4 linked regions of the Homo sapiens genome follow. The protein of the gene in region 1 interacts with the protein of each later gene in a biochemical or structural test. Each region holds a gene or a part of one and is shown in the gene's direction. Other genes may lie near its edges.

The links.
Region 2: the proteins of TRAF7 (region 1) and RIPK4 form a complex in vitro, tested with the Homo sapiens proteins (one study listed by BioGRID).
Region 3: the proteins of TRAF7 (region 1) and PARD3B interact in a test that uses a peptide from one of them, tested with the Homo sapiens proteins (one large-scale study listed by IntAct).
Region 4: the proteins of TRAF7 (region 1) and PDZRN4 interact in a test that uses a peptide from one of them, tested with the Homo sapiens proteins (one large-scale study listed by IntAct).

What each region holds. Positions count from the first base shown.
Region 1 is NC_000016.10:2,162,278-2,165,965, forward strand, and holds part of TRAF7 (E3 ubiquitin-protein ligase TRAF7), read left to right. Parts: intron 1-1,605; 5' UTR 1,606-1,643; coding exon 1,644-1,724; intron 1,725-3,579; exon of another isoform or gene 3,580-3,601; coding exon 3,602-3,659; intron 3,660-3,688. UniProt on the Homo sapiens protein: E3 ubiquitin and SUMO-protein ligase that plays a role in different biological processes such as innate immunity, inflammation or apoptosis. Potentiates MAP3K3-mediated activation of JUN/AP1 and DDIT3 transcriptional regulators.
Region 2 is NC_000021.9:41,742,898-41,746,585, reverse strand, and holds part of RIPK4 (receptor-interacting serine/threonine-protein kinase 4), read left to right. Parts: intron 1-723; coding exon 724-827; intron 828-2,445; coding exon 2,446-2,704; intron 2,705-3,688.
Region 3 is NC_000002.12:204,548,463-204,552,150, forward strand, and holds part of PARD3B (partitioning defective 3 homolog B), read left to right. Parts: intron 1-3,688. UniProt on the Homo sapiens protein: Putative adapter protein involved in asymmetrical cell division and cell polarization processes. May play a role in the formation of epithelial tight junctions.
Region 4 is NC_000012.12:41,572,231-41,575,381, forward strand, and holds the end of PDZRN4 (PDZ domain-containing RING finger protein 4), read left to right. Parts: intron 1-133; coding exon 134-1,660; 3' UTR 1,661-2,515; downstream 2,516-3,151.

The sequences.
Region 1 (3,688 bases):
CCCAGGAGCTCAGGTGCAGGGAACCAAGGGCTTGAGAGCCAGCCCCTCCCTGCACACCTGTAGGCCGGGCTGGGGGGCCCCAGGCCAGACTGTGGGCACGGTGGTGGGTGATGAGTGGCATCTTGAAGGCGCATGCAGGGCGGGCATGGCCAAAGGGACCCAGTCAGGAGGGACTGATGGAGGAGGTACTGGAGCCAGCTGGGCTCAGTGATGCCCCCTGAGCTGTGCTCCTGCTGGGTGGGGGCAGAGACCAGCTCCGCCACTTTGGCCTGGGACTGGGACTGTCCTGCTCCTCTCAGGCCCCTGGGGCCTTGGTTTGCAGCCCGGCTTCCCCAGGGTGAGAGCAGGGCCGCAGGAGTGGGCTCCCTGCTGCTGCACCGCCCCCAGAGCAAGCTTGTTCTGAGGGCTCCTGCCTTGGGAGCTGAGCCCATGGTGTGTCCTCATGGGGTGCTGCGCATGGGCCTCGAGGTGGACAGTGCAGGTGGGCCCGGGGCAGGAGTCCTGGGCACGTGGCCTTCCTCCCCACAGGGAGCTCAGCTTCAAGCCGGGGCTCGGCTGCGCTATCCGCTGCCAGCAGGAGACAGGGCTGTCCCAGCTGCATTCTGCCAGGCTCCTGGCTTCCAGGCTGCCCAAGTCCTGAAAGTGGGACCTGCTCGGGAGGAGGGGCGCCTGCTGACAGAGCCTGGTGCCTCACGGGGGGAGAGTGGGCGTCATCCAGCATGGACAGCCCCTTCCCCGGGCTCTGTCCTGGGTGTGACCTGTTGGCTGGGTCTCTTTTTCTCTCTAATGTTTACCTTCCCCTACTGGTGTCCCTGGGCCTGGCCAGCACTCCCAGCACCCACGGAGGGGCCACGTCTCCCCCAGGCCCACCAGCCCCTCTCTTCTGGGGAGGGTGATTCCCGCATGCCTTCTCCCTGCCCCCCCACCCACCAGCCCCTGAGCCCCTGTGGCGTGGCTGGGAGTGTGGGTGACCTGCACGGGTTCCAGGGGCGGGCTCATCTCTCTCCTGTGCTTTTTTCCGTGCAGTGCGGTTTGTGTGGAGTTGGGCTCCGGTGACTCACCCTGCAGGTTCTTTCTCTGGGGTGTGGCTGGTGTCTCCCCGCTGCAGCCTGGTGCTGGCTGGGTCCTGACCGCACCTGTCGTGGCAGGAAACACATTCGTCGTGCCTTGGCTGGTCCCTGTGTGACTGCGTCCCGCCACGTGGGCCACACCCTGGGCCTACCCACCAAGGCCCAGCCTTGGCCCCAGGGACATTCAGCCTGGAGGTGACTGGCTGTGACTCAGGACCCAGAGGAGTAGAGGGAGCCAGGCAGGGGTCCCTCCACCTCGGGGAAGAGCTGGATGGGCTCTTCGGGAGCTCAGAAAGGCTAAGCCTTGAGGGACGGTGACGCAGAGCCGCCTGCCTGCCCGGGCCTCTGCATACCTGGGATCGGGGTGAAGGACCTTTGCCTCCTAGAGGCCTGCCTGAGCCGGGGCTGGTGGTGGAAGGCTGCTGCGGCGGCCCCACGGTGCCCCACAGCAGGTCTGCACACTTGCAGCAGCCCGTCTGACTCACAGGGGCCTGGGCTCCATCTCTCAAGCCCCTCATTTGTGCTCCACCCACAGGAGGTGCTTCCCAAGGACCGTAGATGCCTCTCTAGAGCATGAGCTCAGGCAAGAGTGCCCGCTACAACCGCTTCTCCGGGGGGCCCAGCAATCTTCCCACCCCAGACGTCACCACAGGGGTAAGGGTGTGCCCCTCTGCAAGCCCAACATCCCCAGGACCCCCAGCATGCCCCAGGGATCTGGTGTTGCCTGCAGAGCTCCCAGCGCAGTCCCGTCCCGAGCTGGGGTCTCAGGGGAGCTCGGTGGGGGGGGGTGTGGTGTGTGTGTGTGTGTGTGTGCGCGCGCGCGCGCGCGCGCGCACGCGTGCGTGTGTGGTTGGGGCGTGTTAGTGCTGTGTGGCGCGGCCTGGTTGCATGGTTAAGCGTGTGAGTGCTGCGTGGCGCGGCCTGGTCGCATGGTTAAGCGTGTGAGTGCTGCGTGACCTGGCCTGGTCGCATGGTAAAGCGTGTTAGTGCTGCGTGGCGCGGCCTGGTTGCATGGTTAAGCGTGTTAGTGCTGCGTGGTGCGGCCTGGTCGCATGGTTAAGCGTGTGAGTGCTGCGTGGCCTGGCCTGGTCGCATGGTTAAGCGTGTTAGTGCTGCGTGGCCTGGCCTGGTCGCATGGTTAAGCGTGTGAGTGCTACGTGGCCTGGCCTGGTCGCATGGTTAAGCGTGTGAGTGCTGCGTGGCCTGGCCTGGTCGCATGGTTAAGCATGTTAGTGCTACGTGGCGCGGCCTGGTCGCATGGTTAAGCGTGTTAGTGCTGCGTGGCGCGGCCTGGTCGCATGGTTAAGCGTGTGAGTGCTGTGTGGCGCGGCCTGGTTGCATGGTTAAGCGTGTGAGTGCTGCGTGGCGCGGCCTGGTCGCATGGTTAAGCGTGTGAGTGCTGCGTGGCCTGGCCTGGTCGCATGGTTAAGCGTGTTAGTGCTGCGTGGCCTGGCCTGGTCGCATGGTTAAGCGTGTGAGTGCTGTGTGGCGCAGCCTGGTCGCATGGTTAAGCGTGTGAGTGCTGCGTGGCCTGGCCTGGTCGCATGGTTAAGCGTGTTAGTGCTGCGTGGCCTGGCCTGGTCGCATGGTTAAGCGTGTGAGTGCTGTGTGGCGCAGCCTGGTCGCATGGTTAAGCGTGTGAGTGCTGCGTGGCCTGGCCTGGTCGCATGGTTAAGCGTGTGAGTGCTGCATGGCCTGGCCTGGTCGCATGCTGAAGCGTGTGAGTGCTGCATGGCCTGGCCTGGTCGCATGGTTAAGCGTGTGAGTGCTGCGTGGCCTGGCCTGGTCGCATGCTGAAGCGTGTGAGTGCTGCGTGGCCTGGCCTGGTCGCATGGTTAAGCGTGTGAGTGCTGCATGGCCTGGCCTGGTCGCATGGTTAAGCGTGTTAGTGCTACGTGGCGCGGCCTGGTCGCATGGTTAAGCGTGTTAGTGCTGCGTGGCGCGGCCTGGTCGCATGGTTAAGTGTGTGAGTGCTGTGTGGCGCGGCCTGGTCGCATGGTTAAGCGTGTGAGTGCTGCGTGGCGCGGCCTGGTCGCATGGTTAAGCGTGTGAGTGCTGCGTGGCCTGGCCTGGTCGCATGGTTAAGCGTGTTAGTGCTGCGTGGCCTGGCCTGGTCGCATGGTTAAGCGTGTGAGTGCTGTGTGGCGCAGCCTGGTCGCATGGTTAAACGTGTGAGTGCTGCGTGGCCTGGCCTGGTCGCATGGTTTAGCGTGTTAGTGCTGCGTGGCCTGGCCTGGTCGCATGGTTAAGCGTGTGAGTGCTGTGTGGCGCAGCCTGGTCGCATGGTTAAGCGTGTGAGTGCTGCGTGGCCTGGCCTGGTCGCATGGTTAAGCGTGTTAGCGCTGCGTGGCGCGGCCTGGTCGCATGATTAAGCGTGTGAGTGCTGCGTGGCGTGGCCTGGTCGCATGGTTAAGTGTGTGAGTGCTGCGTGGCCTGGCCTGGTCGCGTGTTAGGCATGTGAGTGGGCTCCACATGTGCACGTCCTCCTTGTGTCCCGGAATGAGGCCAGGTCTCCTCCGTCCTCCCTCTAGACCAGAATGGAAACGACCTTCGGACCCGCCTTTTCAGCCGTCACCACCATCACAAAAGGTGAGCCCTTAAGCCAAGGCCAGCCCAGG
Region 2 (3,688 bases), on another chromosome or scaffold:
ATTCTGTGGGTGTCACAGGAGACAGAGGTGACAGACAGGACAGGGTGAGGGACCAGGCCTGGGTGAGAAACAAGGCGTGTAACAGGTGGGCCGAAATGAGCCCTGCACAGATAGGTTGGACCCAGCACCTGCCTGCGGCCTCTGGTACTCACGGCTCGGCCACGGCAGCTGGAACTGAGTTGCCTCCAACCATCCGCCCCCTGCTCCCCACCAGGGTTGGGCTTGCCACCCAGAGGAGTCTGTATGGGAGCCTGAAGTTCAGGTGCAGCCATGCTCTTCCCGGGGACTTACCTGGCCGGTGGCCGGCGGCGTCGCCCTTCTCTTGAGGAGTTGACTTCCTGGGACAGATGTGTCTCTGGCATAGGAAAGTCACCCTGATGAGATGGAAACTGCTGCATTTAAAGCTTACGGCAGGAAACGGGCTGAATGGGGAGCTCATCCGCCAGGTGCTGGCAGCTCTGCTCCCTGTGACTGGCAGGTGGCGCTCCCCCGGGGAAGGCTTCCGCCTTGAGTCTGGTGAGGCCTTCAAATGATTACCGATGGGGGGGCCTGGGTTTGGCCAGCAAATTGTCCATGTAGGGCCCCTGGGCTTGCCTGGTGAGCTCAGGCTGGGCCGAGGCGTGTGAGAAATCCCCCAGCTCGTGGGGGCCCTGCGTTTATATGGAACGCGTGTGTACGCAGAAGTCATCATCCGAGTGACATGTCCCCTTTCTTCCCCACAAGAAATTACTTCTGAAACCGAGGACCTGTGTGAAAAGCCTGATGACGAAGTGAAAGAAACTGCTCATGATCTGGACGTGAAAAGCCCCCCGGAGCCCAGGAGCGAGGTAACGAGTCCTTCCCACAGGGGTCTTTTGTCTCCTCGGCTTCCAGGCAGGAGTTTCCAAACCACTCCTCTTTGCAGAGTCCCCCGCCGCCCGGACCACTCTCCCTCTCTTCTGAGCCCATCCCGCACCCAACTCCATTAGAAGTGTAGGTCCCATGGGGGCTCAGGTCCACCTGCCCGACTGCATCCCCGCCCCACCTCCTGTCTGATTCTGCGTGAGTGGCGGAAGGGCTTCCCTGACACTAAATAGCCACTCATTGGATGTGTGTGGACCACGGGGATCAGAAGGCCCAGCCCCGGCCGGGGAGGGAGAGCTGGTGTCTGAGTGTCTTTGCACCCCTGGCTCGGGGATCCAGTTCCTTTATAGCTGCCCATAAATGGTCTGCACTCTGATGAGTGCCACCCAGGTGATTTCAGATGTGATAAGAAGCTCCAAGTAGCAGGGCTGGCTAAATGCCTTTTCGGGTGATGAGGCTGGAGCAGACCTGTGAGGCCCAGCTGATAAGTGAGCTTTATAACGTGTTATCTGGTGTTGGGCGATTAATCCCAGGCTGTTGGTGTGAGCTCAGGAGATCAGGAAATATGTATATCAGGAATATGCGCCCACTGCCTCAACATAAAGTGCATGTGTGCCAGTGAGCCCGGGAGCAAAGGTGCCCGGGGGTTGCTAGTACAGAGGCAGACCTGGGCCCTGATAAGGGAAAGAAGGCAACCAACATGTAGGGGTGGCTCGGTACACCCAGCAACAGTGCGGGACCTCGAGCCGTCCCACAAAGGGTGGGGAGTTGGGGCAAACAGGTGTGCCTAAGGGAAGAAGCGTGAAATCCCGTCAGATTCCACTTACCCACCAGAAACCTGCTGCCCCTGCAGTCCATGAAGCGAGACTCTTTAAAAGGCCCCATCGGTGTATGTCGGATTGGATCACCCCTCGTCCCTGTAGCCGGGTCCTTCCCCTTTCCCTCGTCCCCACACAGCCCCCAGGCCAGCCCCACGTGGCTCCGCGGGGAGGTCGCAGTTGTGGCCACGTGTGGGGGTCCTGCCCAGTTCCTGTCTGTCCTCTCGTTTCCTGCCAACGCTGGCCTGTGCTGGGCAGCTGTGTCCCGCCATACATGCCTCACATTCTGCAGCTTGACACCGCCTGCCTTTTGTCTGGGTGACGCTCTGTGCAGTGTTACTGAGCAGATGGTATCCAGAGCTGCATGAGGCTGGATTTTGCACTTTTATGAAGGCTATCTTTCCTTAAGATGTCTCCGTGCTGGGTGGGGCCAGCGCAAGTCTTTGTAGCTCCAAGTCTTTGAGCTCCCTGGCGCTGTGCGGGTGCAGAGTCTGAGCATCCCAAGTGCTGTGCGGGTGCAGGGTCTGAGCTGCCCGGCACTGTGCGGGCGCGGGGTCTGAGCTCCGCGGCGCTGTGTGGACATGGCGTCTGAGCTCCCTAGTGCTGTGCCGATGCGGGGTCTGAGCTCGGTGACCAATAGGTTATCTGCATTGCTTCCAGGGTCCGTCCTTTCCTCCCCCATCTCCCTCCCGTGGCCCACCTTGCTCTTCTGTGTTTGTGTCATGGGCGGGCCATGCGGTCTATGGCAGGGTCTTCACCCACCCCCTCTTCTGCATCTTCGCAGGTGGTGCCTGCGAGGCTCAAGCGGGCCTCTGCCCCCACCTTCGATAACGACTACAGCCTCTCCGAGCTGCTCTCACAGCTGGACTCTGGAGTTTCCCAGGCTGTCGAGGGCCCCGAGGAGCTCAGCCGCAGCTCCTCTGAGTCCAAGCTGCCATCGTCCGGCAGTGGGAAGAGGCTCTCGGGGGTGTCCTCGGTGGACTCCGCCTTCTCTTCCAGAGGATCACTGTCGCTGTCCTTTGAGCGGGAACCTTCAACCAGCGGTGAGTGGGGACGCCTCTGTGTCCCGAGAGATGCTGGGCTTGGCGGGACAGTGGACTGGACTCAGTGAGAAGCTAAACGGAATCAAGGGGACAGTTTCTTGACCCAGCAAGAATTCTTCTTTGTGTTCTCTCTGTCTTAAGTAATTAATTTTGTGTGTTGGGCATTTGGCTCCGTCTTATGTCACTTAGCATGTGTGGGGAACAGGCCACATCACCAGTCTGTGCAGCAGTCTTGCCTGTGCCAGTGCCATGGGTGGAGGCTGACCTCAGGTCTACAGATTGGAAACCCCCTCCAGTGCAGTGAGCCTGGCGAGTAGCCGAGCCCCACTCCCTGGCGGGCCTCCTGTCTCGGGCGTGGCAGTCCCGCACCCTCTGCTCAGACGCTGCTGGGTACACACCCACGCCTTCGCATATGTGGGCTCCCCGTTCACGGTAGTCCAGGCCTAGTAATGTGTTGGTTATCCTTGGAGGTTTTACCACCAGGCCACCTTTGCAAACCACCTGATAGGGAGGAGCACTTCTCTTTTAGCTAATCTCATCTTTTTATGTTAATTTTGATGGCTTTTGTTTCTGGAAGGTGCTTTTTTTCCTATCCCTGCCCCAGGGTGCTGGACCTGGTGCTTGTTCTGGCCTCCTTTCTGCCGGCTGCAGGGGTAAGATGTGGTCCTGCCCTGTTCCTGAAGGGGCTGCAGCTCTGATGGAAAATACAGGGATTTACACTCAGGGCTACAGCCACGGGGGCTGAGGGCCAAGGCTGCAATCTCGGGGGAAGGGGAAGTTGGCTTTTCCTGGTGGATTGGAAACATCCTCTTGGAGGCAAAGACTTTTCCTGGATCTTACAGACTTCCCGGGATTTTTAGATTAGAATATTGGGGGCAAAGGAGGCTGTCTTGTTTTAAGGCAATGCTACATAGACACAGTGGGGAAGACCTGGTTCGACGGCAGATAAGCAGTGGGTGATGGGCTTGAGGAGGAGAGTCAGGG
Region 3 (3,688 bases), on another chromosome or scaffold:
ACACAGAGACATGACAAGTAAGTCGTAGATTTGGGTTTAGAAACCAGGAACTGTGTCTTTAGATGTTTGCTCTCAGCCATTAACTGCATAGCCTAGTACTATGTATGTTGTTATGAATTGGAATTTATCCATATTGTTTGTTTTTTAATGCTTGATTTAAAAAGACATTTCCATCTACTAACTGCTATATCACATCAACCTAAAAATAGCAATTTTGCTTCTGGAATAGTGATGGGATATCCACAAGTTTCTCTTAATTATATATTTTATGAGGTCTACATGTAGAAAATCTAGTTTCTGAGGCAAATATTGTAGGATTTGCAAATCAACTATGAAAAATATTCCTCAGTCTAACTACAAATGGGAAAATGGGCAAGATCTTAGACATCCAGGTGGCGAGTGCTATAAAGAACCAAATTTGGTGGGAACATGAATGTAAAGTAAGTCCATTATTTTCTGAGGCACTGAGTAATGTAGATGGGAGAAAGACAGGTTTCAAGATTGAGGATGAAGTTGAGGTTTCTAAAGTTTGGAAAGTAAGTGAAGTCCAAGAATGCCATTCTATATTTCGTGGACAGCGTCTGAGAAGTAACCACTACCTGTTGAGAACAAAGAAAACCTATTTGTGGAATGTTGGGAACCCCCTGAATCAACATCAGATAAGGCCAGAGGTTGATGCGATCCTGAAGATACAGGGGGAGCTTTTGGGAAGGCTTTAATTATGCTCTGAAGTCTGGGCCTTTGAGGTTCCTGCCACCATTTGATGAACTCCATTGGAAACGTGGTGGACTGAGAGGTGAGAACTGTGGGATTGCTTATCTCCGAATCCTGACACTTTATCAGTGTCCCAGCCTCCAAATCCAATTTAGTGAAGTTGTTAGTGGAGAAGTGATTGTCTTCTTATGTGCTTATGGTGGGGATCGTTGAGTAATTAGTTAAATTTATCATCAAAATTATGTGTCACAGGTGAATGGGTAATTGAGCTGTATCCTGCAGGGACTCTCAACCCTGGCTGAACTTCAGTAACCTCTAATTTTCACATTAAACATTTTAAACATTACAAATACCTGTGTCCCTTCCCCCAAGATTCTCATTCATTGGGTTAGGAGTGGGTCCTGGGCATAGGTATTTTAAAAAGCACTCCAGGTGATTCTAATGCCCAGCCAAGGTTGAGAATCACTAATCTACTCTAATCTTTTCGTATGGCTGAACTCATTGGATTTTAAACTCTTTTGATGGCAGATACTGTGTCTTAGATATCTACACACCAATCTGTTATTAAGCAACAGAATAAGCACAATACATGTTATTTGTTAATGGGATTATTATTATGAAGTGCAGGGCTTAAAACCTTGCTGTCTAGGGATTCAAACCTTTTAAGTGTCTTTCACTGATTTACAGAAAGTGAATTTATTACACATTGTTTTTCAAAATGAATTTTGACATTTCTGGCCTTTTCTCATTAAAAAAAAACAAACAAATAAAAGCATGGAATTTGTTAGAGTATTTATTGACCTTTTAGTGCCATTAGGAATACTCCTACTCCTACCCTTAAAGAATTCTTCCTATAGAAGGTGCTCAAATAATTGCTTAAAGTGAACATTCATTTTATATAGACAGTTGTCCCTTAGTATCCATAGGGGATTGATTCCAGGACTTCCCTCGGATACCAAAATCTGCAGATGCTCAAGTTCCTGATATAAAATGCTGCAGTGTTTGCATGTAATCTACACACATCCTCCTGTATACTTTAAGTCATCTCTAGATTATTTATAATACCTAATACAATGTAAAAGCTATTTAAACAGTTGTTATACTATACTGTTTAGGGAATAGTGACAAGAAAATTGTGTGTGTGTGTTCAGTACACGTAGTTTTTTTTCTAAATATTTTTGATCTGGGGTTTGGTTGAATCCGCAGATGCGGAATGCATGGATGCGGAGGGCTGACTGTGTGTGTGTGTGTGTGTGTGTGTGTGTGTGTGTGTATTCACTGAGGATGAAGTGAATAAGGGAAAGGCTTGTCTAGTAATGAGGATGTATAGTGTGTTCTGGGGTTGGAATGAATGAGAAATAAGAGCATTGAATTCGTGGAATAGCAGGCATGCTGGAATTTACAAAGGCCAATTTGTGGCTCTGACTGCGTATGTGAGTACACCCTTTTTTGGAAAGGAAAAATTATATTTGATAGGGTTTTCAAGATGAATCTTTTCTGTATTCAGATATTTTGAATAATATGTTTGTTTTACAAGTTGAGGCAGCTTCCCAGAACTGGGAGTAGTCTGATTAGACTAACAATTCCATTCCCTGATTAACTGTGGGATCGGAATCTAAGAGAATTTGTGTAGTTAGAAGAATCTGGTATGATAATGTGTGGGAGTAGCCTGGAGGAATAGGCTAGAACTCTTGAATTTCTAAACTTTTCAGGCTTTGATGCCTTGTTACCTAAATAGATTTTAAGGTTCTTGTATACATAAGCTAGGCCCAGACTGGATTCCTCAAATGCTTTTCAATTGATTGGGCACTGACTTACTTGAGTGCTTTATTTCCTATTCAGACCTCACTTCTTTACAGCATGTGGACAGAACTGACTCGCCATCAGCATTACACATGCTTCCAACTTGGTTTTGGTTCTGCTACTCAGCTTGCATTGAGCAGCTTCTAAGTTTGCAAACAGAGGGCTCGTGGGGCCTGCTGTGACCCACAGACATATTTTTGTAGGTCTGCTCAGTGTTATATTTTGACTTAGTTGTCAGCATTTAAATATTTTGAGATTTCATGCAAAACTCCAGATTCCTATCTTCTTTGGGGGAAAAGCAAATTGGAAGCTCTGACAATGCTGGGCTTTACTTTCCCACATAGCAACCATCAGTTGGAGCTGAGACACCTCTGCTCTCTTTAGAAAGAATTATTAATGCTTCAGTCTCCATTATTGCTTCCCTAACAGTGAGGATAAGTTATTGTCATCATGCTTGACTGTTTTTACTCTGTGCTTATTTTCTCACTTATGGCCTTAATTCATGGTTGCTATTTGGCCTGCTGGTGGGCATTTGAGTTTGTGCTCCTGGATCTTCTCTCCCCTCCCTCCTCTTTCTCTTTCTCTCCCTCTCACACACACATCCCCACACACCCTCTGTGTATAATCCATGCACATAGGGTTTGCTGAACCGGGTTTGGCTGGTTATCTGAGCTGAGTTAATTGCCCTGTGCGCGATTGGGAGCCACAGCCCTGATTTGTAGCTTGAGGCCCTGTGCTTAATCAAGTGGCTTAGTTAACCAGGAATTCATTCCCAGGGTATTCTGTGCTACAGATTCCCTTTGAAGAAGTTGGGCAAATGGTAATGTTGTCAGATTTTTGTGAGACTATTTTATGAGTGGACTGTTAAAGACATCTGAGGAGTGTGTTAAACATTCAGAGCTTTGGGCCTCTCTTGGAAAATCTAAAGCAGTGTAGTGCAGTAGAACTTTCTGGGATGAAGAGATGTTCTAGATCTGCATCTTTCAAGAGGGCAGCCACTAGACATATGTGGTTGTTAAGTAGTTGAAATGTGCCTAGTGCAACTGAGGAACTGAATTTTAAATTTTAATTTAAATGTAAATCGCCACAAATGGCTTGCCTTAGTGGACAGTTCAGATCCAATGCTCTTCTGATGGGTTCTGTCAGCTGCTTTTGGAAACCACTGGCTTAA
Region 4 (3,151 bases), on another chromosome or scaffold:
GGACCCTAAATTAGAGCAACTGTCTAGGAGATGCAACTTTGCCAGGAAACATTGGTTTTCAAACAAGATTTTTAATAACAAATGTCTTCCAAAATCATTAATTTTCTTTGTTCTTTCAACATCATTTTCTTAGCCAAAAAAGCAAGAAGAAGAAGAAGGCACAACAGACACTGCAACATCCTCATCCAACAACCATGAGAAGGACAGTGGAGTAGGACGTACAGATGAAAGCTTGCGAAATGATGAGAGCTCAGAGCAGGAGAATGCAGCCGAGGACCCCAATAGCACATCTTTGAAGAGCAAGAGAGACCTGGGGCAGAGCCAAGACACTCTGGGAAGTGTTGAACTTCAGTACAATGAGAGCCTCGTATCTGGTGAATACATTGACTCAGACTGCATTGGCAACCCAGATGAGGACTGTGAAAGATTCAGGCAGCTCTTGGAGCTCAAATGCAAGATTCGAAATCATGGAGAGTATGACCTGTATTACTCAAGCAGCACAATTGAATGCAATCAAGGGGAGCAAGAGGGAGTGGAGCATGAGCTACAGTTGCTTAATGAAGAACTGAGAAACATTGAGCTTGAGTGTCAGAATATCATGCAGGCTCACAGGCTCCAGAAAGTGACAGACCAGTATGGAGACATCTGGACATTGCATGATGGAGGATTCCGGAATTATAACACCAGCATAGATATGCAAAGGGGAAAGCTAGATGACATCATGGAGCATCCAGAAAAGTCTGACAAGGACAGTTCTAGTGCTTACAACACAGCTGAGAGCTGCAGAAGTACTCCGCTCACTGTAGACCGTTCCCCTGACAGTTCCCTTCCAAGGGTGATCAACCTCACCAATAAGAAAAACCTGAGAAGCACAATGGCAGCCACCCAGTCCTCTTCCGGACAGAGCAGTAAAGAGTCGACCTCCACCAAAGCCAAAACCACTGAGCAAGGTTGTAGCGCTGAAAGCAAGGAGAAGGTTTTAGAAGGCAGCAAGCTTCCTGATCAAGAGAAGGCAGTCAGCGAACACATCCCTTACCTCTCTCCTTACCACAGCTCCTCATATAGATATGCAAACATCCCAGCACACGCCCGGCATTATCAAAGCTACATGCAGTTAATTCAACAGAAATCTGCAGTCGAGTATGCTCAGAGTCAGCTCAGCTTGGTGAGCATGTGCAAGGAGTCTCAGAAGTGTTCAGAGCCCAAGATGGAATGGAAGGTGAAAATTAGGAGCGACGGGACACGGTACATCACAAAGAGACCCGTGCGAGACCGAATCCTGAAGGAACGTGCCTTAAAGATCAAGGAAGAGCGGAGTGGCATGACCACAGACGATGACACCATGAGCGAGATGAAAATGGGGCGCTACTGGAGCAAAGAGGAGAGAAAGCAGCACCTGGTTAGGGCCAAAGAGCAGCGCCGTCGCCGTGAGTTCATGATGCGAAGCAGGTTAGAGTGTCTCAAGGAGAGCCCTCAGAGCGGCAGTGAGGGCAAGAAGGAGATCAATATCATTGAACTGAGTCACAAAAAGATGATGAAAAAGAGAAACAAGAAAATTTTGGACAACTGGATGACAATCCAAGAACTGATGACCCATGGGGCCAAGTCTCCAGATGGCACGAGAGTCCATAATGCCTTCTTGTCGGTGACCACTGTATGACCGAATGAATGGAATGCATGCGACTGATTTTAGGAGGATGCTACCAGTTTCGGTAGAGTATGATTGCCTCGTTCAATGTGGCGTTTTTATATATATTTTGTGACTCTTTATAGTTTAAATTTTTTGTAAGCAAAAAATACCTGGTAATTTTTCATTTGTTTTTCATATACTGGTACCTTCTTTTTGGCTGAGATCTTTCTTTTACTTGTGATATATTCATATTACTCGTTTATAAAAAATCAAAAACAAAAGGAAAGAAAACAAAAAAAACTTGCACAAAAATACTGAGGAGCCAATTAATTTCCTACTTCAATGTATCTAATGTAAGTGAAAATCTGGATTTATTTCTCTAGTTTACTTATTTTCTACTTTAATAATAACTCAATGCCAAAATATTTCTATGCTTGTTTCTTGGCATAATACATTTTAAATCAAACCTGTTCGTAATAAATCATGTGCCACATCTTGTCTTACACATAAAAGCCACTGCTTTTAACATCCCATTGTACATTTAACACATAAATGGTGTTAACATCCCATTGTACATTTAACACATAAATGGCCATTGTCTTTGTCTCAGTAAAGTGTAGGTGGACAATCTTCCTGTGATATGTAGTGACATTGGTCATGTAGCTAGATAATTATGGTAATTGTGACAATTAAAGAGAAATAAATTATTGATTATCCTTCAGAAAAATTATCAAGGAGTGTTTTATTTTCCTTGTCCACAGTGGTTGACAGTTATAAAGTAGTTATATGTGTATACTATTTAGAAGACGCCTAATTGTGGATTATAAAATGTGCACATTTTCTATCACTTGTTTCCAATAAAGTTGTATTGAAACATTCCCTATAGATCACTGTGTCACATATGCCTACCAGGATTAAATTCGATAATATATGTATAGCATCTAACAGATGCTAACTCAACATTCAATAGCCATTAGTTCATGTTCCCGTTGCCTGCCACCCACTTTTAAGGTAAAACCAAGAAAAATTTAAAGAATGCCATGGAGAGAGAATATCAGTGAAGTGTCTGAGATTGTTTATAATGCTGCAATGTATGTTAGTCTGCTCTGGCTATCATAACATAATGCCATACTTAAACAACAGGAATTTATTTCTCATAGTTTTTTTTTTTTTAAATGGTGGTCTCACTTTGTTGCCAGGCTAGTCTTGAACTCCTGGATTCAAGCAATCCTCCTACTGAGGCCTTCCAAAGTGCTGAGATTACAGGTGTGAACCACTGTGCTGGGCATCAATTTCTCATAGTTCTGAAGACTGAAAGAGTCAAGGTCAAACACACTAGGGGTTAGGGTTTCAACATATGAATTTTGGAGGAACACAATTCAGTCCGTAGTGCTATGTGTATTTAGTTGATAAATAAATTTTAATAATTTATAAATAATTTTAGGGAACCATATTTGCAAAATCCTCAGCATAGTCAAGTATAAATGCTTCATATGTCAGTTTATTAAAAGGTAAGATTAT